Linked DNA regions of Homo sapiens. The protein of the gene in region 4 purifies or fractionates together with the protein of the main gene of each other region. This does not show direct contact. Each region holds a gene or a part of one and is shown on either strand. Other genes may lie near its edges. The genes, in order: EPB41L1, MPP1, GAP43, MYH4, DHX8, CNTN1 and GNAO1.

The links.
Region 1: the proteins of MYH4 (region 4) and EPB41L1 purify together in Homo sapiens (affinity purification with mass spectrometry; one large-scale study listed by BioGRID and IntAct). This does not show direct contact.
Region 2: the proteins of MYH4 (region 4) and MPP1 purify together in Homo sapiens (affinity purification with mass spectrometry; one large-scale study listed by BioGRID and IntAct). This does not show direct contact.
Region 3: the proteins of MYH4 (region 4) and GAP43 purify together in Homo sapiens (affinity purification with mass spectrometry; one large-scale study listed by BioGRID and IntAct). This does not show direct contact.
Region 5: the proteins of MYH4 (region 4) and DHX8 purify together in Homo sapiens (co-immunoprecipitation; one large-scale study listed by IntAct). This does not show direct contact.
Region 6: the proteins of MYH4 (region 4) and CNTN1 purify together in Homo sapiens (affinity purification with mass spectrometry; one large-scale study listed by BioGRID and IntAct). This does not show direct contact.
Region 7: the proteins of MYH4 (region 4) and GNAO1 purify together in Homo sapiens (affinity purification with mass spectrometry; one large-scale study listed by BioGRID and IntAct). This does not show direct contact.

What each region holds. Positions count from the first base shown.
Region 1 is NC_000020.11:36,189,240-36,192,739, forward strand, and holds part of EPB41L1 (band 4.1-like protein 1), read left to right. Parts: intron 1-1,037; coding exon 1,038-1,135; intron 1,136-1,382; coding exon 1,383-1,558; intron 1,559-3,500. UniProt on the Homo sapiens protein: May function to confer stability and plasticity to neuronal membrane via multiple interactions, including the spectrin-actin-based cytoskeleton, integral membrane channels and membrane-associated guanylate kinases.
Region 2 is NC_000023.11:154,778,184-154,781,485, reverse strand, and holds the end of MPP1 (55 kDa erythrocyte membrane protein), read left to right. Parts: intron 1-172; coding exon 173-247; intron 248-2,132; coding exon 2,133-2,309; 3' UTR 2,310-2,802; downstream 2,803-3,302. UniProt on the Homo sapiens protein: Essential regulator of neutrophil polarity. Regulates neutrophil polarization by regulating AKT1 phosphorylation through a mechanism that is independent of PIK3CG activity.
Region 3 is NC_000003.12:115,679,010-115,682,509, forward strand, and holds part of GAP43 (neuromodulin), read left to right. Parts: intron 1-3,500. UniProt on the Homo sapiens protein: This protein is associated with nerve growth. It is a major component of the motile 'growth cones' that form the tips of elongating axons. Plays a role in axonal and dendritic filopodia induction.
Region 4 is NC_000017.11:10,466,760-10,470,714, reverse strand, and holds the start of MYH4 (myosin-4), read left to right. Parts: upstream 1-1,155; 5' UTR 1,156-1,178; intron 1,179-1,378; 5' UTR 1,379-1,427; intron 1,428-3,771; exon of another isoform or gene 3,772-3,930; 5' UTR 3,931-3,955. UniProt on the Homo sapiens protein: Muscle contraction.
Region 5 is NC_000017.11:43,514,975-43,518,474, forward strand, and holds part of DHX8 (ATP-dependent RNA helicase DHX8), read left to right. Parts: intron 1-2,192; coding exon 2,193-2,348; intron 2,349-2,857; exon of another isoform or gene 2,858-3,088; intron 3,089-3,500.
Region 6 is NC_000012.12:40,936,939-40,940,438, forward strand, and holds part of CNTN1 (contactin-1 isoform 1 precursor), read left to right. Parts: intron 1-631; coding exon 632-749; intron 750-2,396; coding exon 2,397-2,547; intron 2,548-3,500. UniProt on the Homo sapiens protein: Contactins mediate cell surface interactions during nervous system development.
Region 7 is NC_000016.10:56,334,489-56,337,988, forward strand, and holds part of GNAO1 (guanine nucleotide-binding protein G(o) subunit alpha), read left to right. Parts: intron 1-240; coding exon 241-369; intron 370-2,242; coding exon 2,243-2,372; intron 2,373-3,500. UniProt on the Homo sapiens protein: Guanine nucleotide-binding proteins (G proteins) function as transducers downstream of G protein-coupled receptors (GPCRs) in numerous signaling cascades.

The DNA.
Region 1 (3,500 bases), on a different chromosome or scaffold from region 4:
TGCTCTCCAGGTCATTTTCCTCATAGCTGCTGGAGAGATCTTAAAAAGTCCCTTAAATCAGATCATGGCAAGCCCACTCCCCCTTCCCATCCACACCCTTGCTTACACCTTTCAGGAACTCTCTTTAGCTCTTGAGCTAAACTTCAAACTCCTTCCATGGCCACCTACCTCTCCCACCTATCCCTTGCCACACTGCCCCATGCCCAAGGTGCTTTAGCCTCTTCGGCCTTGAGATCTTTGAATAAGTCGAGCTCTTTCCTGCCTGAGTGCTTCGCATTTGATGTTTCCTTTACCTGAAAGTATCTCCCCCTCTCGCTTCTCACATAGCTGGTTCCTTCCCATTCTTCAAATGTCAGCTCAAGATCACCTAGATCTAGGTCTAGAGGGGATCCCCTGCTCTTCCTTAGATGACAGGAGCCCCTATGCCTTCCCAGTTCTGCTGCACCACACATCTCCCTTCATTCCCCTTGTAGCCCTGATCAGTGTCTGCAATTATCTTGTTTGCTTATTTGTTATTGGAGGTCCCCTTCCCCTACTAGAATCTTCTGCCTTGGTCTCCATGTATCTCTAGTGTTTAGCACTGGACCCGTCACAGAGTAAGGGCTCAATCACCCTTATTGATTCAGTGAATGAACAGGCCAAAGTCGCAGATGCCTGAGAAGAGTTCAGAAAGAATGACTCACGTCTGTAATCCCAGCATTTTGGGAGGCTGAGGTGGGAGGACTGCTTGAGCCCAGGAGTTGGAGACCAGCCTAGGCAACATAGTGAGACTCATTCTCTACAAAAAATTAGCTGGTGTGGTGTCGTCTGACTGTAGTCCTGGCTACTTGGGAGGCTGAGGCAGGAGGATCTCTTGAGCCCAGGAATTCAAGGTTACAGTGAGCTATGATTGCGCCACTGTACTCCACCCTGGGCAAATGATCGAGACCCTGTGTCTCAAAAAAACATTAAACAAATAAAATAAAAAACACAAAGAATGGGCTAGTGGCGAGAGTGAGCTCAGGCCCTGCCTCTAACCTGCCCTTTTGGTTTTCCAGTATGAGCAATTTGAGAGCACAATTGGCTTTAAGCTCCCAAACCACCGGTCAGCCAAGAGACTGTGGAAGGTCTGCATCGAGCATCATACATTCTTCCGGTGAGCCTGACCTTGGATGGGGTAATGGGGATGGGGCAGAGGCCATGTGTATGGAGGGGAGCAGGGGGAGGAGTTAGTGAGAACTCTAGGAAAGTCCTCCACCCTTTCCCCAAGTCCCTCCCTTCCTGGACCACTTTGAATTGTTGTAGTTGGTGGAGTAGTGGGATGAAAGGCCAGCTGTGGTCTAACCTTGGGCCTGGCAGTGCAGGTCTGATTCCTCCTCCTCCCCTGCATCCCTCTGCTGCAGGCTGGTGTCCCCTGAGCCCCCACCCAAGGGCTTCCTGGTGATGGGCTCCAAGTTCCGGTACAGTGGGAGGACCCAGGCACAGACTCGCCAGGCCAGCGCCCTCATTGACCGGCCTGCACCCTTCTTTGAGCGTTCTTCCAGCAAACGGTACACCATGTCCCGCAGCCTTGATGGAGGTATGGCCCAAATTGGAGGGCTGGGCGGGGAATGGTCTTCAGAGGGAACTGGGGGAGTGGGCATGCTGGGTTCTGCAGAATGAGCAGGAAAATGGTAGATGCATCCCAAGTTCATCTGCACCAGGCTGGCCCCTCAAGACCAGTGCTGTCCCTGGGCAGCTCTTGGTGGCTTAGTCCCAACCTAGAGCTCACTCCCACTTGAGATGTGATACTACCACTCTCTGGATTCCCCACAACTTCCCTGAGTCGTGGTCTTTTGGGGTCCCAGGTTTAGCCATATGGTTTGGGCCACCTACCCAAGAAGCTTAGCAATCCACCAGTCTAACCTGTGGTCTAACCTTGGGCCTGGCAGTGCAGGTCTGATTCACCCTCCTCCCCTGCATCCCTCTGCTGCAGGCTGGTGTCCCTTACACTGGTCATCATCATACTAGGAGAATAGTGTCTTATGACTGCAGTGTGGAGCTGATGATGCCTTATCTGCTGGGAGGCCAGGGCATCGTTCTTGGTCATTCTTTTGGTTCTACTAGGTTCTGGGCTGATTGACAATCTAACCACATGGCACTCTCCACTGTCCCCATTTCTATTGGATTGATGGGTGCCCTTAACATCAATGAAAACTGGCCCTATATAGTCCTGTAGCAAGCAGATAGGGCTTAAAATGTGGTGCACAAACCACGTTTCATCAGAGTCGCCTGTGAGATTGTTAAGCAAGCACGAAAATTCCCAGGTTTTGCCCCAGACCTACTAAATCAGCACCCTTCAGGGCCCAAGTCTCTCCCCAGGATGTACACACTAGAGTTTGTAGGTGATGTTCGGAAGTCACATGGGTCACTGGGGAGATTCAGAATTATGCAGATCTGAGTTCAAATCTCGGCTTGACAGTCACCGTGGGCTGTTCTCTGGACACTGGAAGTGGTTCATAAATATCTGAATGAATGGATGGGTGACCTTAAGCAACTTATTTAACTCCCTGAGCCTATTTCCTCTTCTACAAAATACATAGTACCTACTTTGCTGTGTTCTAGGGAAAACTAAATGAGATCATGCCTAGAAAATATTCTGTGGCACATAGTAGCACCTTAAGAAATTGTACCCATCATTATTGTTTTTAGGTTTGTAGAGAGTGGCTTAAAGGTGGGAAGTGGGGGCTGGGCATGGTGACTCATGCCTGTAATCCCAGCACTTTGGGAGGCCAAGGCGGGCAGATCACCTGAGGTCAGGAGTTCGAGACCAGCCTGACCAATATGATGAAACCCCATCTCTACTAAAAATACAAAAATTAGCCGGGCGTGGTGGCATGCACCTGTAATCTCAGCTACTCGGGAGGCTGAAACAGGAGAATTGCTTGGACCTGGGAGGCAGAGGTTGCAGTGAGCTCACACCATTGCATTCCAGCCTGGGCAACAAAGCGAGACTCCATCTCAAAAAAAATAAAAAAAATAAAAAATAAAAAGGCCAGGCACAGTGGCTCACACCTATAATCCCAACACTTCGGGAAGCCAAGGCAGGTGGATCACGAGGTCCAGAGATCAAGACCATCCTGGCCAACATGGTGAAACCTCGTCTCTACTAAAAATACAAAGATTAGCCAGGCATGGTGGCAGGCGCCTGTAGTCCCAGCTACTCGGGAGCTCAGGCAGGAGAATCACTTGAACCCGGGAGATGAAGGTTGCAGTGAGCCAAGATTGCACCGCCACTGTACTCTAGCCTGGTGACAGAGCAAGACTCCGTCTCAAAAAAAAAAAAAAAAAAAAAAAGGTGGAAAGTGGGGACTTGGGTAGGGAAACCGTGGATACTCCCAGAACACCTTGGGGCAGGCCTCCAGGCAAGTTAGTTCTACTTATATTTTCTGAGTGTTATATGTGTGCCAGGCCTTGTGTTGGGTCCTGGGTATAGTATTTAGAGTGAATAGGTTTGGTCCTTTCCTTTGAGGAGCTCATAG
Region 2 (3,302 bases), on a different chromosome or scaffold from region 4:
GTCAGCCTGGAACAAGAACAGTAGTACTGGGAATGATGGAAAGTTGTATTGGGGTAAAGCTCAAAGCTGCTTATTAGAAGGAATCCATTATGACAGCTATGTAGGTTTTTTTTTTTCACTTTCCTTTTCTTCCTTCCCCCCCCTCCCCGCCGCCCTTCTTTTTTTTTTCTAGACCCTGAAAATTGTTCGGACAGCAGAACTTTCGCCTTTCATTGTGTTCATTGCACCTACTGACCAGGGCACTCAGGTGAGGAGAGGTTGTGCGCGATGGGTAGTTCACTTTCTCCGGGCCTGCCCATACTGGGACCTCAGTCCAGGTCATTGGCCAGAGTGCTGGCTGGAGGTCACAGCTCCAGCTGGGCTTCTTCCTCCAGGGCCAAGAAGCCAAAGGGTATGCACATTCGTTCCAGCTCTTAAGCCACTAGCTAGGCCAGTGCCCATGCTACCTAACAGGGACAAAACAAACCAGACCCAGTCATCGTCCTGGAGGCACACAGTTCCAGGGGCAGAGATGGACAGTTGAGCAGATCCTGATACTGGTGGGATGCAGGCTCTGGCAGGGGAAGCTGTGATGGACAGAGGTGGCACTGAACCCGCCCTGGGGTGCAGTATGGCTGTGGGGAAAGACAGAGAGGCCAGGAATATATCAAAAAGCCTACCCTGCTCCTCTGCCCAGCCCTACCCATGCACTTTGCTGCACTGTGCTTTTGCATTGAACAATGGACACCTTTCCCTATCAGGGTGTGAGGAACTCTTTTTCTCTATAGCTGCTTGGTCTTCTGCTGCATGCATGTGTAATACTGCAGTCAATAGCCCTGTGCATATAGCACATGTGTGCAAATATATCTGTAGGAAAAACTCCAAGTAGGATCACTGGGTCCAAGAGCACACACACTTAGAATTTGGACAGGGACCGCCAACCACCTGTGAGACTGCTTGTTTCTCTTTGCCTGCAGCATGTTGTCAAAATTTTCTTTTTTTGCCAGTCTACTGGAGGGAAAAATAGTATCTCATATTTCTTTTTTACTAAAAGAGATGATCAGGTACTTTTTCATATGAAGAGCAATTTGTATTGCCTTTTCTGAGAATTATCTGGTCATACCCTTAGCTCATTTTTCTGCTGAGTTATTGACCTTTGATTTATAGGAAGTCTATATTAGGGTAATTAGCCCTTTGTAATATCAGCTGCAATTTTTTTCCAATTTGGCATGTCTTTTTGCTATGCAGACATTTTTACTTTTATGTAGTTACATGATTTGTCTTTCATGGCTGCTTGGTTTTAGGTCAAAGACAGAGTCCTGAGATATATATACACACACATTTTTAAATTTTGTTTTTTGTAGAAATGGGGTCTCACTGTGTTGCCAGGCTGGTCTTGAACTCCTGTGCTCAAGCAATCATCCTGCCTTGGCCTTCCAAAGTGCTGGGATTACAGGTGTGATCTGGGATTAGAAGTCACCTTTATCTGACTGGGTGCAGTGGCTCACACCTGTAATCCCAGCACTTTGAGAGGCCGAGGCGGGCGGATCACCTGAGGTCTAAAGTTCCAGACCAGCCTGGCCAACATGGCAAAACCCTGTCTCTACTAAAAATACAAAAATTAGCCAGATGTGGTGGCGCATGCCTGTAATCCCAGCTACTCGGGAGGCTGAGACACGAGAATTGCTTGAACCCGGGAGGCGGAGGTTGCAGTGAGCCGAGATTGTGCCACTGCACTCCAGCCTGGGCCACAGAGCAAGACACTGTCTCAAAACAAAACAAAACAACAAAATCACCTTTATCTTCGTTTTAGGATTGCAGCTCTGGTGGTTGTTGAAATGGCTCTTCCATGTTCAAAGGGCATTAAGTGGGAGATGCTGGTGAAGTCCATGCTGTCTCTGCATAGCTATTGGTCCTCCAGAGGACTCTGATTAGTCAGGGTTAGCTTGAGATCCTCTGAGAATTGCCATGGTCTTTTGAGATTGCCTCTTCATGCCCTACATTAACATTCTTTCACAATGTCTTCTGAATTTGACTCGTCAAGTATGATGCACAGCTGAGCAACGCTAACAATTGCTGTTTAAAATCTGTCACTGGCCTCTCTGGGCTGGGGGTGGTGCAGCTTGCTTCATCTGTGGCTTTCTTCTTTGCAGACAGAAGCCCTGCAGCAGCTGCAGAAGGACTCTGAGGCCATCCGCAGCCAGTACGCTCACTACTTTGACCTCTCACTGGTCAATAATGGTGTTGATGAAACCCTTAAGAAATTACAAGAAGCCTTCGACCAAGCGTGCAGTTCTCCACAGTGGGTGCCTGTCTCCTGGGTTTACTAAGCTTGTAGAATGGGGGAACCCACTGTATGCCCCTCTCCAGCATTTGGAATTCCACCCGCCTTGCTTTAAGACAAACAGGGCTGCTCCAACTAGTTTTGTGTCAGCTTCCAGCTCTCTGCAGCTATCCTAATTCAGCCAGTAAGGTTCAGTCTTCTTGCTCAGGCTCCTGAAGGGTTGATTCTCCTGATAGATGGGGCCCCACTGATCTGGATTTGAAAAGGATTTCTAGAAATTGGGGGTAAGAAGTACTACCAAAATGTAACTGCTAATCAAGGGTGATGCACAGCAAAAGCAATGGACCCCATCCCTCTAAAGCCTGCCCTCCTTTGCCTTCAACTGTATATGCTGGGTATTTCATTTGTCTTTTTATTTTGGAGAAAGCGTTTTTAACTGCAACTTTCTATAATGCCAAAATGACACATCTGTGCAATAGAATGATGTCTGCTCTAGGGAAACCTTCAAAAGCAATAAAAATGCTGTGTTGAAATGCCAATGACCTTGTAACTCTGGGTTTCCACACAAAAAGAAATGTGGCCCATTTCACTTAAGCTCCTGGACAACAGCATTAACACAAGATGCCTCTCTTGTGTTCAGATGATAAACACTGGTGCCCTGGAAGAGTCCCCATTCTCTGCCCCCACTGCAGGGCTCTACTGGCTAGTGCCCATGTAGAAAAACACCCTTAAGGTTGTTGTAGCTAGTGGAGCGCTCATTGTGGGCACATATTTAGAACGAGAGAAAATCCAAGCCTGGGGTCCCGTGGTACAGTGGAGGCCGGTCGCTGAGCCAGGGCTGGGGCCCACCCTGCATGCCTGGCTCATGATATGGCTACAGCTCAGGGCCTCGCCTCGCTGCATCCAAGAGCGCTTTTTTTTTTTTTTTTTTTTTTTTTTTTTTGAGACAGTCTGTTTTGCCAGGCTGGAGTGCAGTGGCAGGATCTCGGCTCACTGCAACCTCCACCTCCCAGGTTCCAGGGGATTCTCCTGCCTCAGC
Region 3 (3,500 bases), on a different chromosome or scaffold from region 4:
ATTCCCAGGTGCCCTGTACTGCATTTCCTCTGCCTTCCACTGTATTTCATTTTAACCTGGGTTAAAGTAGCAGCATCTTCCACTGGGCTGTACTGTTCGGAAATGGGTGGCTACCATGGGTTGCTTTAGGATTCTACAGCTGCCTGGAGGGGCGTGGACAGACAATCTAAGAGGGTGCAACAGGGTTAAGGGGAAAAATAGGTACAAAGAGAAAATCTAAGAAAATAATTTCTGTGAATATCAGGCTTAAAAATTTTAGATATGATTATTACTTTAATACCTATGGAAATGTTGGGGGAACTATAAATGTTATTTATTTTACTTCTTTTACTATTTACTACCAACCTGTTTGTTATGGGGGGATGTCATTTGTATTTTGATCTTTGAAGTTGGTTGGTTATTGTCATTGTTTTAAATTCTCCAAGTATGTCCACCTCTCCCTAGTTTGCCACGCTGCCTGCCCAGCTTTTTACGTGCCTGGGACCAAAACATTTCAGCGCACCTCTGACAATGATTCCTTTAGAGGAAGAGGAGTGTTCAAAACATCTGTGGGACACTGCCCCATTCAGTCATGAGTAGAGAACTTTGAAGCCCCCTTTAGTGATTATATCCTTGGGGTCTCCTGCTGAGCAGTGTCACTGTGCTCATTGGCTCTCAATGAAGGAATTCTCTCTTACGTCTCCTCTTCTCCATGGTAGCCTATTGATTTTCCCCAGTAGAGGACTCTGCTGTGGTCATATTCAGTGATGTGGTACAACCAAGGTAACCTATCCAGAGGGCTATCAATCAGTGATATTGATTGGGTGGCTGCCACAGGGTCTTTGACTGATGCTAGTTGGAAGTGTAGCTCTGAGTGACTTTAAATGTTCTGTATGTTGATCTTGGCTGCATTTTATTTTCATGGTCTCAGTACATCTTGCAAATTGATGCCATCAGTAATGATCAAGAAAAGAGGGAGGAGTTTCCTATTGCCATTCCCTGAATAGAAAAATTAACTTAGTGTCTCCCTGCTTCTCTTCCTCCTCTTTTTTATCCTTCCTTCCTCCCTCCTTCCTTCCCATTCTGTCTCCTTCTTTTCTATTCTTCCTTTCTTTTTCCCTTCCCTTTATATTAACTTTCTTCTGTGCTAGGTATTGGAGTCACAAAGATGAATAAGATATGATTTTTTGTCCAGGTGCGGTGGCTCATGCCTGTAATCCCAGCACTTTGGGAGACCGAGGCAGGAGGACTTGAGTCCAGGAGTTTGAGACCAGCCTGGGCAACAGAAGGAGACCCCATCTCTACAAATAATAAATAATTAGCAGAGTGTGGTGGTGTGTGCCTGAGGTCCCAGCCACTCTGGAGGTTGAGGCAGGAAGATCACCTGAGCCCGGGAGGTCAAGGCTGCAGTGAGCCATTATTGTGTGCCATTGTACTCCAGCCTGGGTGACAGAGTGAGACCCTGTCTCAGAAAAAGTAAACCAAACCAAAACAAAAACAAGATGTACTCTTTTGACCTTAATGAATTCTTACTTGGTATGGGGGTAGTATGAAATTCAGGGAATGACATTGAAAACAATCATATTCATAATCTCAATTAAATTCTGCAGTTAGGTACAGGGCACTTCCCTATGCCAATGCACTTTGGACAAAATATGAATGAGGCAGTGCTTCAGGGGCTAAGATGCAGTCTGCTGCTTACTATAAAAACGTTGCATATAATGTATGTCCTGATACTCAAATTATTAACGAAAAGAATAGATGCAAAATTTAGAATTTCTAGAATGATAATTGTGTATAAGAAAATGAAATACCCAGCTCATATTTCTGAATTTAAAAAATTATTTATGTTTCCCAGAACAATATTTTCCCTAAGACCCAAGGTAACCATCTATTTTTCAGCTTTCCAAAAGATAGGTCCACTTCTACCAAGCTGTGTGTTAGATGTGAGATTTTCCAAGGATATTTACACTTATTTGGCAGGGTGCCTCGTGAGCGGCTTTGATTTGAAATGTGGTTTCAACCACTTCCTAAATTTATACACAACTCACAAAGAATGAAAATTTTGGTTGTGGAAGTCCATAAATGCTGTTTATAAAACATGGGCACCCTGTCAGATACTCAGTGGTATACCTCTTAAATACTGTTGATTATTAAGCTTTTATGGAGCACTTTTATATTGCTAGAGTAATCATTTTTATTGGCTTTTCTTGACAACAGCCCAATGTCATTTGATAATATTTTTCTTTCTATTTTTATATTCCAAGAATAGGGACAAAGTAAATGGATATTCTGGCCACAAATACAGCCAGTGACAAAATGAGGATCAAACTGATTGAACTCTAAATCCTCACCTTAACTGTAGCCCTACAGTTCTTTCTCTCTATTAAGGTGTTATGTTTTGTCTCAGTTTCTGCATTTTCTTTTTTATCTTAGCTGTTGTTGTGATCTGATGCTTTTGGGAAATACCAACCAGGACCTTACTAGGATATTCTCTGTCCTACCTGCCTTGTAATATAATGCAGGGAAAAGATCTTTGAACTGAAATAAAGAGACCAGGGTTCTAGTCTCAGTATTTCTACCAACCAGATTTTAGGCAAGTTATTGCTTCTCTGGACCTCATTCATCTCATCCTTAGGAAAAGGGACTACGATAGTTGGTTTTTAAGGTTTTCTTTCAAGAGTTAACATATAAAAGTCTAATAATAGGTAGCACTTAATGAGCATTTATTAACTGCCAGGTCCTGTGCTGAGTGCTATGTGGGGATTGTTCCATTTAATCATCATAACCACTCTGTGGTAGTAATGTAGTAGTGTAATTTTCCCTTCCCTTTTTACAAGGAGAAATCTTAGCTTTAGGGAGACTATGGGACTTAATCATTGTTGACAGCTAGCAATGTTGAACCAGAAGCCAAACCCTGAGAGTCTGAGAGGTCACATGCTGAACCCTGACACTTATCCAAGTGCTATTCTGGAAGAAACAAAGAGGAGAGGAATGTCTAAGGACCCCAACAATGTGTTATAATATAAGAACATCTCTCTTCTTTGGATAATTGGATATTCCAGACTCTTGTCTGGGAATTATTAGGGATAGCATTTACAGATGGGTGTCTAGTAACTACTATAATTCCTGATCATAATTCCCTCACAGCCCTATCACCCCAGAATTATTAGGGATATTAAACTGTTTCTGAGTCTTAGATTCTTATTTCAAAAATGCTCCAAGTACTGTTTTATTAGACCTGAGAGAGCTATAAAGATCAGCTGAAAATGATTGTTCTTAACAGATGTATTACTGACTCCATCAAATACATCAGTTATGCCAGGAGGATCTGAAAACTAGAAATGGAAATTTTCATATCTCAATCAGATGAAAGTCATTTTATTTATTGTAGGCAATTGCTACCCTAAGTTTAGCTTATCAGAATCAGTATCTTTTTTATATTCTTGCTTAGGTCTACCCCCCTTTGGCAAGTGCATTTCCAAAGGATCTGGTACCTTTATAACTAAAATATTAAAGAA
Region 4 (3,955 bases):
CATAGAATTTTATCAAAATAAATTTTTAAAGTATAAAAGATTCAATCTATCAATGTGTCAAAGATAAATTCTAAGTCAACAGAATTATAAAAACAGTGATCTCATTAATTGGTAATTTAAGCCAGCTAATGATAGTTGAAAATATCTCACCAGAGCTCAGTTAGGGTCACACTTAGAGTAGGTATATTTCCTGCCATATTCAGTAACAGCTGTGTATGTAGCAAAACCATCAAAAGCCAATTTATGAGTATTATGGGCATATGTGATGGCCCATCCATCTTTTCAATCCACAGGGAGAATATCGTGGATACCATGACTTTCCTCCCACCTTAAATAAAAATATGTGGTTCCCACCTCATTAGAGCTATAGCTAGTCATGAGAGTCTGCCCATGAACTAGGAATGCATGTTTGTGTCTCCTTCCATTATGCAGAGGAAACATGCATGGAACATCACACAGCATCCTGTTGTTCCTTCAGTGAAAACATACAAGCTGGAGATATCCATGGAAAGTCCTCCAGAAAAAGAACAGAAGTGTTTATATCTATTCTAAATCCCTTATGCCTCCCCCAGTGGTCCATCACCACTGCCTAATCTGAGAATTCACTTTCACCTTCATATTTAGACTTTCAGACTTTAAAAGAATCTATCGCCAGTCTTTCTAAAATCCAGACTGTGGCTAGGAATGTTGTCTTAAAATCCATCGCTCACTGCTTCCAATCATAGTGTCAGGTCTAAAATTCATTCCAGACTCCTTAATGGCTCTAAGAACCAACAAATTAATTAATCCTAAATTCCTCACATCAGACTCATTCTGTTGGACCAATTTTATAGGCAGAGGAGTAAGTGGGAATCTGGCTTTGAATTCTGTGATGAATGATGCAACAGCCAAACTGGAGAAACAGTGTTAGAAGCCCTGAATCCCCATCCCCTATCAAATGCCTATAAAGAACCCTAGATCATCCTCTGTTAAATTATTTATGGGTGTCAAGAAATATTTCTAATTATATCCATTCACAGCCACAGTCAGTGAATATTGTGCAAAGAGATTGCCAAAAACGGTTTTGCCAAGTAGGTTCCCAGCTAGGACAGCTGAGGTGGCTGCTGTGTTTGCAGAATGGTCTCTATAAAAGTGGAGCTGAGATGCCTCTTTCCCATCCTTCCTCAAAATTCTTGAAGGTATGTATATGTGGAAGAACACTTACTTTTACATTCCTGATGATGATGATTTTTCATTTAAGGGATGTCTACTGCTTCCCAAATTTTAATTATTCTTTCCAACATTCTTAAGGACGACATTGTAGACAATATAGTTACTAGTATTTTGTGATTAAATGGGGAAAAAAAAGCATCCCACATTCTCTTTTTTCTTTCAACAGTAGTTGTCTGCTTTGAGCCTGCCACCTTCTTCATCTGATAATACAAGAGGTAAGAATAATTTATTATTACACTCTAAAGAACAAAGGAATCTCTATATTGCTACATCTTAATGAGCTACCATTTTATTTCCTAGTTTAGTATTGGGAATAGGATATCGGGGCAGCTGTTCTTTAAAAATGCCTTCTCATAAAATTTTGACTTTTCAGGCCACTTAATCAAACAAAACTTAATGAAACTTCTCTTTCACATGTTGTTAGAACTACAGAAAGAATGCAGCCATCATATGTAATATTTAATGTGAACTACTACTCCAACTTAACCCATAAAGATATATCAGAGAGACCGCATGATAAAATCAAGGTGTGTTTATCTGGAAGTCGATATTTCTAGGTGCCAATCCAGGCTTTTCACTGATTCTATTTGCCTGGGTCAAGCCAGTTAGCCTTTATGTATCTTGAAATACAGTGTGTTGCAAGTGGAATTAACAAACCTGCATTTAGCGGAACAGGACTCATGTCCCAGTACCGCCACTTATCACCCACCACTATGACACTGAATGACCCTGAACCTTTCTAGGCCTTAGTTTCCTCATCAGTAAACGAGGAGGCTGGATTCTATTGACTGCTAAGGTCCTTCCAGCTCTTGCCAACTGTGATTGACGTCAGTGGTTTTCAAGGACTCCTCCACAGAATCAAAACATTTAATGGAACCCTGCTAATGGAGAATCAAAACTAATGGAATCCTGCTAATTGTTCATGTGGAGACATGTACTTTTAGTATGATGTTAAGGATATATATAATCATGAAAACCTATTCTACACTTAAGAATTATTTTAAATGAGTTTATATTTAACATAGCAGCTATATTCATTTAGAAAAGAACAGAAAACACTGTTCATGTGGAAATGTTCCTTCCTTAAACTTGAGGCAATGATCACTGTGTGGGTGGATTCAAGAACCCCCTGCAACAACCTGAGGCTCTATTGGGGCTTGATCCCCAAGTTGGGAAACAATTAATCTATAATAAGACAGGAGATGGGAAGGGTAGCAATCATCTTTCTGTGTTTCCTGGATACACTGCATTATAGTAACCTCCACGTGGTAGTGTGTTGTTAATTCAAGTTGCCTGGTGTAAAAACAAACACAGAAACAAAATATAATGTAATATAAATAACATTTCTTCTTCAAAGAAAAAAAACCTGACATTAAATGTTCCAATATATATCCCCTGAAAATATGTCTAAGTTTCACAGTGTCATCAGGACACTTTTACAGATAAGACTGATTTTGAAAATAGAGTATGTGGAAATTCCATAGCTAACATTTTAAGTTGAGGGAAAGTTAATGCTGATGACAAAAGATCAAGACTCTGGAAAGCCTACAGAAGGTGGTGGCTATTGCTGTTGTCGCCATCATTGCTGTCATTGTCATTGGCAACCAAGACACTTCTGCTCCACAGAGGTCACCTTCTTTTATTCTGGCCACTCACCCTGTCCTTGCCATCAGGACAGCAGGACTTATTTTATTTTCTCATAATTAATTTGTCAGTAGGGAAAATTTTTTAAGTTCATTTTGGCTTGAAACTTTATACTGGCTATCCATTTCAGAAAAATATTTAGAAGACTGGTTGGTATTTTTAAAAAGAGGAGAAGAAAGAACGAGATTATAAACCTAAGAAAATAAGAATCAGATTTTAAAATATGTTAGGTTGAAATCCAACTAAAAACAAAGAGAAATACAGATCAACACATACAATCACTATAAAATTTTATTAAAAATTAAGAAGTTCCTTTTCTCCAAGAATCTTTTAAAGTTGTTTTTGGTTTAGATACTACTTCTGACTTTCAAACAATTTCAAAACTAATAAAGGAGATTTTAATTTTAACTTAGGGCAAAATTATATGTTGGATATTCAGCTTTCATTGTAGTTATTTTTTCCTTTACTTACCTAATACCTGTCAGTTAACTAGGTGTTTATTTGTAATGATTAGATCTGGACTTATGTCCGGAAAGAACAGGTGTATCTGTCTACATTCAATTTTAGTAAATCTGACATCCAATTTTAATAATTTGGGATGAGAGGAAAATTTGCATAAAGATCTGTATTTGAGTTTTTAAGACAGGTTCATTTATATTGTAAAGCCAGTGGAAACAGTTATTGTCCATTTCTTTGTATCATCACGATGTTAAGAGGGGGAAGTTGGAAATAAGAAAGAAAAGAAAAGTAGCAAGAAAAAGAAAAAATTCTGAACATGCTTGGAGCATCACAAATGTTGCTGATTGAATGTTGATTCCTCCACATTTCTCAACTAAGGTTTACAACATAGAGGATGGAACTTAGGCTTAAAGTATCACAAAAATTAAGCTATCAACATAGTGCTTTCAAATCAATGAGCTGATCTCTCAGCTCCTTGACATAGTATACAGGAGTGGTCCCTAAAGGCAGGGGTGAGGAAACAAGCATGGAAAATTAAGCACATTAATATGAAATCAACAGAACAATTCTCCACCCCAACCCTGAATCATCATTTGGCTCTGTTTCTTCCTCTAGGTATACCTAGTCCAGTACTGCCATC
Region 5 (3,500 bases), about 33 Mb from region 4:
TGTGAGTGAGCTGTGCCCAAGATTGAAAGCATGTAGTCTAAATGTTAGCCAAGATTATTTATGGGTGGTGCTACTAGATGATGTGCATTTTCTTTTATACTTTTATATGTTGTCTTAATCTTTTACAGTGGGTATGTATTACTTTCATAATTTGTGAAAGCCTTAAGGCTATTTTTATTTTGAAACTTAAGTAATAATAATAGCTAACACTTTTTGTTTTGTTTTGTTTTTTGAGATGGGGCCTTGCTCTGTCGCCCAGTTTGGAGTGCAGTGGTGCAATCTCAGCTCACTGCAACCTCGGCCTCCTGGGTTCAAGTGATTCCTCTGCCTCAGCCTCCCAAGTAGCTGGGACTACAGGCGCATGCCGCCATGACCACCTAATTTTTGTATTTTTGGTAGAGATGGGGTTTCACTGTCTTAGCCAGGATGGTCTCCATCTCCTGACCACATGATCCACCCGCCTCAGCCTTCCAAAGTGCTGGGATTACAGGCATAAGCCACCGCGCCTGGCCCAATAATAGCTAACACTTACAGTGTACTTAACGTCCTAGATACATGCATTGACTTGGTGCATTCTCGCATTGATCCTATGTGGTAGATATTATTTTCACAGATGAGGAACCTGAGGCACAGAGGGGTTAGGTGATTTGCCTAACATCACAGAGCTAGTGGAGCCAAGATTTGAACCTGGGTAGCCTGGCTCCAGCTTGTATGCTCTATACTACTTGTCAGGGTGGCGGTGATCAAAAAATTAGTTACACATGCCTGTCCTGATTTGGAGAGAGACATGTGTAGAATGCTGTAGAGTCCAGCCACTGTGTGTGATTGCTGCCTGGATTTGTGTGGTTAGTTGTCCTTTCATAACCTATCCTTTGGTTTGGAGCTGGCATAGTAATTTGTAAATCCTGGTACTGTTTGTAACAACAGATGGTTTTGTCAGAAAATGGCCCTCTTCAGATTGCTATTCATTGTTTCCTAGCAACCTATGGCTAAACTACATTTTTTTTAATTAAAAAAAAATCAGTGTTTTTGAAGTAGTGTTTTATTATTTTTGAAAAACAGAAGAAAAAAATTTACCCACCATCCTACTACCTCCACTGTTATTATTTTGCTGTTTTTCATTCCAGTCTTTTTTCATGTTTATTTCTTTCATGGTTGCAATTTTAGTAGTCAAGTAAGTATGCAGTTTTGTATATTTTTTTGAGTATTTAATTTTCCTATTAGAATAATACATGTTCAATATTTGGTAAAATCTAAAGAAAATAGACCTCATCTGCAAGCCTACTATCAGAGTTAGCCACTGTTAACATTTTAGGGTTTTTTTCGCCTAGTCATTTCCTTCTAGTAGTTGATATATAAAGACTTTTACTAAAATTATTTTACATTGTTTCGTAACTTGCATTTTGCATTTAATGCGAATGAACATTTTCTTCTGTCATTTAACATTGCAAACATGATTTTTATTTTTATTTTTTATTTTATTTTGAGTCAGGATCAGTCTTTGTTGTTGCCCAGGCTGTAGTGCAGTGGTGTGATTACGGCTTACTGCAGCCAGCCTCGACCTCCCCAGGCTCAGGTGATCGTCCCATCTGAGCCTCCTGAATACTGGGACTACAGGCGTGAGCCACCACACCAAGCTAATTTTTGTATTTTTTGTAGAGATGAAGTTTCAACATATTGCCCTGGCTGATCTCGAACTCCTGGGCTCATGCAATCTGCCCACCTTGGCCTCCCAAAGTGCTGGGATTATAGGCATAAGCCACGACGCTTGGCCTGCAAACATAATTTTTAAAATGACTGCAGAGTCATCATTGGGATGATTGACGTAATATGTTTATTTCACTTACATTTTTGGTCATAACTGTGGGGATGGTGTTCTGTCATCTTGTTTTATGCTTTCTCTTTTATATTGCGCCACACTATTTTGAAGATATATGTCTCAGATCTGTATAATATTTCTTCCATTAACCCTGCTTGTATTGCCTCCCTCGAACAAACTTCCCCGAAGTGCTGAGTATGGAGAGGGGAAGATAAGAGCATTGGTAGTCTTGGAAATGGTCCCAAAGGAAGTGAAATCAACCCCATTTCTGATTTTGCCAGTTGTTAATTGTCCCCCTTTTAACAGATATCCTGGGTAAAGCTGTTAAGCAGTGTTTAACAGATATGTTGCTTTTATATGCCCACCCCTCTAGGCTCAGGCAAAGCAACGAGCTGGCAGAGCTGGGAGAACAGGCCCAGGGAAGTGTTACAGGTTGTACACAGAACGTGCCTACCGAGATGAAATGCTGACCACCAACGTGCCGGAAATCCAGAGAACCAACTTAGCAAGCACAGTGCTGTCACTCAAGGTAGAAATCACTGTCTTGTTAAAATGGGTTGGTGGAACAGTCCAATCCTGGCCTTCATAAATGAATTTCAGTTTTATGAACCTTGTTAAATACTTTAGTAACCTCATGAAAGCAGTCCCTTTGAGTGAAATGCAAATGGCTGTGATAACAGCCTCTCACGGCAGGTCTGGGGCTAAGTTGGCATGTCTGCTGTGAACACACATTTTTTCTTACCATAACAACCAGCAGGATATTAGGTTGTAAAAGGTTCTAGTTAGGAGCATTTTCTAAAAGGAAATTAGAAAAATATAATCAATGCCAAACTGTGGACACACACACCTAACCTCAACCACTTTAGCGCTCAGATCCAATTCTGTTCTTTTAGAACGAGAGAAAACCCCCTGTTCAAAAACTTTGCAAGGGAACTGTCAGTACAGATTTCAGACTGGCTCTCAGGGGCTTGGTTTTCATTCTGAATCATTGTTCTTCCTCTCTCAGTCCCCAGTGAGGACTTCATTCTCTTTTGGCAGGAGGAGCTGTATGAGTAATTTCCCAGCTGATGGCGTTTCCCCCGACACTGATGCTACCCTGGAGCCCTGGTACTTTCTGGTGCAGAGTGCTCTGTTGTCATTTATTATTTATTCCCTGTCAAAGAGGCTAAAACAGAGCTTTGGAAAGAAAAAAGAAACCTACTCCAGTCTCTGAAGTGCCAACAGAGAGGCATCTGTGGCTTGGACTTCAGCTCCAAACTGCGACTTTGGGCAAGTTTATTTACTTTGCCCTCTGCTCTGTGTTCTGCTCTGAAAAAGGGGCTGTTAATAGTATTTGTTGGAAAGATAAGTGAGATAATGTAGGTAAAGGCACTTGGCACAGTGCTTGATGATTGCTAACATAATTCATCATAGTTATTATTCACACAATAAACATTTATTGAACACCTGCTGTGTTTATGGTCACAATCACTTTATGAGAAAGAAATAGAAAGCTTAGGTCCTACCACATCACACTTTATATACACTTGAATCGTGCATCATTCAGTCGTTTCTTTTATTCATCGAATTAGCTAATGTATTGAACACATGCTACATGCCAGGCATGTAGATTGCACTGTGGTGGTTTTGTGAACATAGTTTTTACCCAGTGTGAACTCTCTGAAAGCAGGGGCCATATCCT
Region 6 (3,500 bases), on a different chromosome or scaffold from region 4:
TCCCTGTTCAAGCAGTGTTTCAGGGTAGTCCTGGGATAAATTTAGCAGGAGAGACAATACAGAAAGGGCACTTGGGCCCTGAAATATAAAAGCTTCCTAAAAAAGACAAAAACTGAACATAAAGTATCTTCTTTCAGTTTAAACAACTTTCTGTAATCTTACTCTACCTTCTCTCTCTCTCTCTCCTTATTTTTTTCCTTTGTTCCACTTTTCCACCCTCTTCCTACTCATCCATCTCCAATACCTGATATTGTCCTCTTTTTCTTGCCACTATTTTCCTGTACCCCACAGAGACAGAGGTAAGAGTGAAGCTCTAAGTCCTACCTTTGGCCCTGGGGACAAGTAGCAGCAGTGGGATTCTTCTCTACCTTCCCACTGTAATCTCCCAGCTGGTCCAAGAGGGGAAAAGGTGGACTCTCAGCTCTGTAGGATGAATAGAACAAGAGCCTTTGGGCATGGTAAGTGGGTTTTCCTTTCCCATGCCATGAAAATCCCACTCAGTTCATCTTAGGTAACAGTGGGGGCAGATGAACATAATGTATCTAAATGAAAAGACAACCAAACCCAGACCTAAGTGAAAGTATTTCTATTAAAGTTCATTGAGAATATGTTTCAATTTTATTCTTTTCAGTATCATAAAGGGGAATTAAGACTGTATGATGTGACTTTTGAAAATGCCGGAATGTATCAGTGCATAGCTGAAAACACATATGGAGCCATTTATGCAAATGCTGAGTTGAAGATCTTGGGTCAGTATCATTTCTAATTTCTGTTAAACATTGTTAAAGCAATATGTCATATCACACAAAATGTTTATTGAGCCTACACAAAATACCCAGTATTGTGTTAGGTGTACAACATATGTTGGTTGTTTACTGATTTATTTATTGCTAATTATCATAATTCAGACTAACGAAACAATGGAATAGAATGAATCTTTGCCACAACAAAAGTCTTCTTCAGAGCATCAGCAGCAGTGGCCATACCTAGGAGCACATTAGAAGTGCAGAATCCCAGGCTCACCCCAGACCTACTGAATGGACACTTTAAAAAGATACCCAGATGATTTTAATACAAAGATAATTTTGAGAATGACCAGACCAGAGGATGAAGAGTCAAAACCCAGATGAAGATATGCTTAGGCCTAGAAAAGCCTCCAGAAAGTACATAGTTACGGATGATTGTAATGTGTTGAAATATATGGATGAAATCTGCTTGGAGTCTGCCAAGGGAAGAGGAGAGTGAGCAGTGGATTAAATGTGTGGATGCTGAGGAAAGTCTGAGCATGACATCAATGAAGTAACCTTTTTTAAGCCTCTGTATTCTGTTCTAATAATTATTGCTCTGTACTTGGAGGTAATGATGAACTACAAATGATCATGTCTCCTTAATTAGTTGATTAGATCCATTATTCCCATAGCTGTTTATAGATAGATCCTGAAAGCAGGACTCCAATTATTTTGGCATTTTGCAGGGTGTTTGCATACAGATGATGCTCAGTAATTGTATAAAGAAGGAGAGACTGCATTGTTTAATGAAAAGTACATGCTTTGGAAACAGAAGGACCTAGATTCAAATGTGACTCCCACTTATTACTACCTGTGGTACCTTTGCCAAATTAAATAATCCTAATAGATTTCAATTTTCTCATTTATAAACTGGGAATAGTTCATTCAACATGTGGTTTAGAGGATTGACTAGGACCATATGTCAGTGTGTATAATGCTGGTCAATTTTTTCCAGCCTTTCACTTTACTTTCCTTGTGGAATTGAGTCAAAGCAACAGAATTCAGAGTTAATTTTAAGGTAAATGTGTATAAAACATTTGATTGAAATTGAAGTTATTTATTTATTGAGACAGGGTCTCACGGTGTTGCCCAGCCTGGAGTGCAGTGAGGCGATCACGCTTCACTGCAGCCTTGACCTTCTAGGTTCAGGTGATCCTCCACCTCAGCCTCCTGGATAGCTGGGACTACAGGCATGCACCAACATGCCCAGCTAATTTTTTTGTATTTTAGGTAGAGATGGAGTTTTGCCGTGTTACCCAGTCTGCTCTCAAACTCCTGGGTAAGCCATCTGCCCACCTCAGCCTCTGAAACTGCTGGGATTATAGGTGTGAGCCACCCATGCCTGGATTCTAATTAAAGTTTCTAATAATCAATTCAGTTATCATCAAGAATTGTACATTTGAATTGGGTGAATTTTATAAGTCAAAGTTATTAAATAAAAGTTACAAAGCATTAGGTATAGAATGCCTATTGGTGACAGCTGATCATATTTACCGAGATTAATCCTTTCCATTAACTATTAAGGAGAATAAAAGATTCTACAACACAGAAGCAATGTTTAGGCTTTACAAACAGAAAGAGAAAGATAACAATTTGTTTTCTTTTTAGCGTTGGCTCCAACTTTTGAAATGAATCCTATGAAGAAAAAGATCCTGGCTGCTAAAGGTGGAAGGGTGATAATTGAATGCAAACCTAAAGCTGCACCGAAACCAAAGTTTTCATGGAGTAAAGGGACAGAGTGGCTTGTCAATAGCAGCAGGTCAGTGCTGAAACTAGAAATCCAATTGCAAAATCTGTTTGAAAAAGTTTATTTTATAGAAGACTTGTTTATATGTTAATAATGAAAATGTTTTTTGCTCTGAATTTTTTTTTTCACAGAAGATCCTGTAGTTCTAAGATGGACAGAAATACCTATCCCTGTCAGTATCTATTATAATGAAGGTTTAATTAACAGGACTCTATAATGTATAAGGAATTTAGAAAATTGAAGCTCAGAGGTGTTTTTTTGTTGTCTTGTTGTTATAAATTGCCCAATGTCACACAGCTAATAAACAATGGGAAATAAAGTAGGATCTCTCTAACATATTTTTCCCCAGTATAGGCATCTGGCATCTATATCCATTCATATTCAACTGAATTTTGTGCAGTTAGCCTATTAAATATTTTTGTAGAAAAATAAAAAGGTGATTTCAAAGTGCAAATAATCTCTTCCTATCTCAAAATGAACAAGATGTTATCATCATCTTCCTTATAAATGGACCATCTACCAATGTTTTGGTGGTTTGGGGACAAAATGAAAAAGCAGTGTACAACTTATATAGATTATTTGTATAAAAGCCACACTGAATAGTTTATATGTATCCTAGAAGAAGTAATATTGAGTGCAAAAATTATGACGAGGAGAAAGCCAGGATGGGAAATGGGAGGGATGGGATGTGTGGGTTGGCTTGAGGGTGTATGTGAGGGTGTATGTGAGGGTGTATGTGAATGTGAGGGCAGCATGTACAAAGGCCCTATGGTGAGGAGTTTAGAATGTGTAAGAAATTGCAGAAACTGAAATCAGTGTGATTTGTCTTTAGAGGAAAATGGAGGAGACTTTTAAGAGATGAGACATAGTAAGCCACATCATAAATGACAAAGTTTTCTATGCTAAGGGGCTTGGGCTTCATCTAAGAGTAATATAAATCTGTTTAAAGTCTTAAACAAGGGAGG
Region 7 (3,500 bases), on a different chromosome or scaffold from region 4:
TGTCCCGGGAGCTGCATGCGTAGCCCTTTTGGCTGTGAATGAGTGCGTGAGGCCAAGACCCCTAAGACCCACTTCCTCAGTCGCCCCCACTCCCTATGGCCTGGAATGGAGGTGATGTCTTTTCCACAGTGACCTGGAGGGGCCCTGACCGAGACTGGACTCTGAAGATGGGTGGCCTGGCCAGTCCCGAACAGTGTCCAGGCATTTGGTCCATAGTCCCCTGTTTGTTGCCATCCTCAGCTACCTGGACAGCCTGGATCGGATTGGGGCCGCCGACTACCAGCCCACCGAGCAGGACATCCTCCGAACCAGGGTCAAAACCACTGGCATCGTAGAAACCCACTTCACATTCAAGAACCTCCACTTCAGGTGAGGCCCAGAGAGGCCCCCAGGCCCTGGCGAGGGCTAAGATGGGACATGCCCAGCCTCTCAGCGCATTGCGTTTACAGCGCCCAAACATCATCCTGCCCCAGGGAACCTGCGGGCTGGGGCAGGCAGCTAGATACTAGAAGGAACCTGTCTGTGTTTCTGCCAAGGTTAGGGGCTGGAGTGAGCAGGGAGGCTTTCTGGAAGAAGATTCCCAGAGTGGGGCTGTGAGGAACAGGGAGGATTTGGACAAGGAGGGGCAGCCTGTCCCTGAGGTGACTTCCAAGGAGGAGGAGGAGGTGGGCTACCAGGGGGCCCTTCCAAGGTCACCTTGGGGGGAGGAGCCAAGAGTGGGGCTGGGTAAGCCCAAGCTACCTCTGTGAGACCCTGAGGACCCAAGTAATCCCAGAGCTGGAAGGAGCAGAGAGAGCTGACCCACCCTCTCCTAGTACGCTTGGGAAGCTGAGGCCTGACAAGAGCAGGGCTTTTCCCAGGCACAGAGCACAGCTAGAACCCAGGGGCTCTGGGGCCTCAGAGCAGGGGCCTGACGGGTGAGCTGGTTCCCAGGGTCCTGCTGCAGCGCTGTGTCCCCACCTGCAGTAACATGCGTGCACTGAGGCCTGCTCCGTCCTGTGGGGAAGAGAGGCCAGCAGAGAAGGGGAGGGCAGGGACCCCTGCTGGGAGAGCTGGATTCTAATATTCCCTGCCTCCCATGTCCCCAACTCCTGCCCGCTCCTGTTCAGACTGAGGGGCCGAGGCTCTGGGCCCAGGAACCCCTAGGCCTCCGCAGATCTGGGGAGCAAAACCTTGGGCAGAGCAGCCCTGAGGGGCCTCTCTTGCCTTCCCAGGCTCCTTGGTCTCTCCTGCTCCCCCACTGGGAGCACAGGATGGGGATCTCAGCTCAACCCAGCCCAGCAAGGCGGGGTCTGAGAATAAGCATTCTGGAGGGGCCACAGAGGCCATCTGCCAACGCCCCTGCATTTCAGATGGGGAGGTGGGATCCAGGGGAGGATCCCCTGATTGATGGAATGAGAACCAGACCCATTCCTTGCTCTGAGCCCACACTAATCTCTGCCTGCAGTCACTCCGTTGTGTCCGGTGGGACCAGAGATCCTTCCCTGTCCCCCTCTGGCAGGCTGTGTGTCAGCAGGCATCCCAGATCTAGGAGGCTACAGGACTCCTCGCTCTGGGGATTGGGGTGGGAGACTGACCTTTTACTTCCAGGACGTAAGTCCCACCTGCCCACAGTCTCTTCCAGAATTTTTGTGCCCCCTCGGGAGTAGAGTCTGAGAGGGGGAAGAGGCCAGGCTCTGATCTGCCAGAAAGGGGCCGTACTGGGCAGAGGTGAGAGCGCCAGCTTTGTCCACAGCCAGACCCAGCTCCACCACAGCTGGACTCTCGCCAGCTTGGGCATGTCCTAAGCCCATGGGTGGCTCACTTCTGCCATCCACATAACAGGTGACATCTCCTGCCTGCCTCCCTCCCAGGCTGGTTTGGAGTTTGCCCAGAGCAAACCCAGGAAGGAATAGACTGAGAGGAGGGTCCTCATGCGAGGAGGACTCTCAGAGGCACTTCCTGGGGGTGGCTCAGGTGCGCCCTCTTAGTAAAATGCTCCTCAGATGCAAGGGCAGGTCTTTGAGTCATGATCTGTGAGCACAGCCAGTCCCAGGACAGACTCCAGGGGTAGTGCCTGGGGATGGCAGTGATCCAGCTGTCTGTCATCACCTGGAGTGACAAGGTCTTCTAGTGAGGGCTTTTAGCAAGGCTCTGAGCACCATGGCCCCCATCCTCTGCCTCTCAGCGTGCTCACAGCTTAATCCCCAGGCAGCCCTCACCTGCCTGGACCCTGCGCCTACCAGCTCCCTGCCTCCTACAGGCTGTTTGACGTCGGAGGCCAGCGATCTGAACGCAAGAAGTGGATCCATTGCTTCGAGGACGTCACGGCCATCATTTTCTGTGTCGCGCTCAGCGGCTATGACCAGGTGCTCCACGAAGACGAAACCACGGTGAGTGGCCTGGGCCCCCCGGGCAGGGGGCAGCGCTGAGGAGACGGCCGCAGGATAGGCCAGCCCTCTGAGCACTGGGCCTCGGGTGCCCACAATGGCTCTGGGGTCCAGCCAGCTGTTGTGGTTAGAGGTTTCCATCATGGACAGGCCGTGCCGGCACTCCACCAATTCTGTATTGCCAAGGCAAATGCCTCATGATGCCAGTGTGGCAGAGCCTGTGTATGCAACCTGATCACACAGAGCCGTGCAGAATGTGCCTCTTCCATAAACTTGGTGGAGTCACAGAGGCCATCAGGCCATAGCAAATTTAAGCAAACCCTAAAAAAACCAGGAGGCAGCCAAGCAAGAATGTACAGGCAACAGAAATAGCAGTCTTAGCCTGACAGCCATCCCTGGGGCACTGGCGTCAGATGCTGCTGAAGCAGCATGGGGCCGGGGATGCTGAGGGAGAGGTGGGGAGGGCCCAGGATGCTGCAGGAGAGTTGCGTGGGGTTGGGGGTGCTGGGGAGCAGTGTGTGGGGCTGATGGGCCAGGAAGGGCAATGGGGATGAGGCATGCTGGTGAGTGACAGTCGTGGCTCTGGGCTCCTTTGCCAAATGCCAGACCAGGCTCCTACCTTCTGTCTTGCGTCACATTCAGCCTAGGGCCTCAGTGAGGGGACATTCCCCTGGGAGAGTGCAGCCTTCCTCTGGGTCTAGTCCTGGCTCTGCTACTCACTGGCTTGCTGCTGAATTTAGGCAGCACCCTTTCTGGCTCAGTTACTATTTTCCATAAAAGGGAGATAATAATAGTACCTGCCTGTGGGGGGCTGTTGGCAGTGGGGTGGGTGATGCGTGTGCAGCGCTCTGGAGCTGTTTCTGGGACAGCAGCGCCAAGCTGGTGGTTGTACAGTTGCTGGTGATTGCCCTGAGCCTGCAGGTCCACTGCGTGGTCCCCTTCTGGGCTGCAGCCCGCCAGGCACCGAGCATGGCCCACAGGGTCACTGGAGACAAGCCCCAACACTCCTGACAGCGGGGCCCATAGGCTATGGGGTCACAGCCTGGCGTCTGTCATCTCCTTCTGTCTGGAACACATGCAAATCCCCCACCCCACGCCTCTGAAGGCTGGCACCGAGGGTTTGAGGTTGGA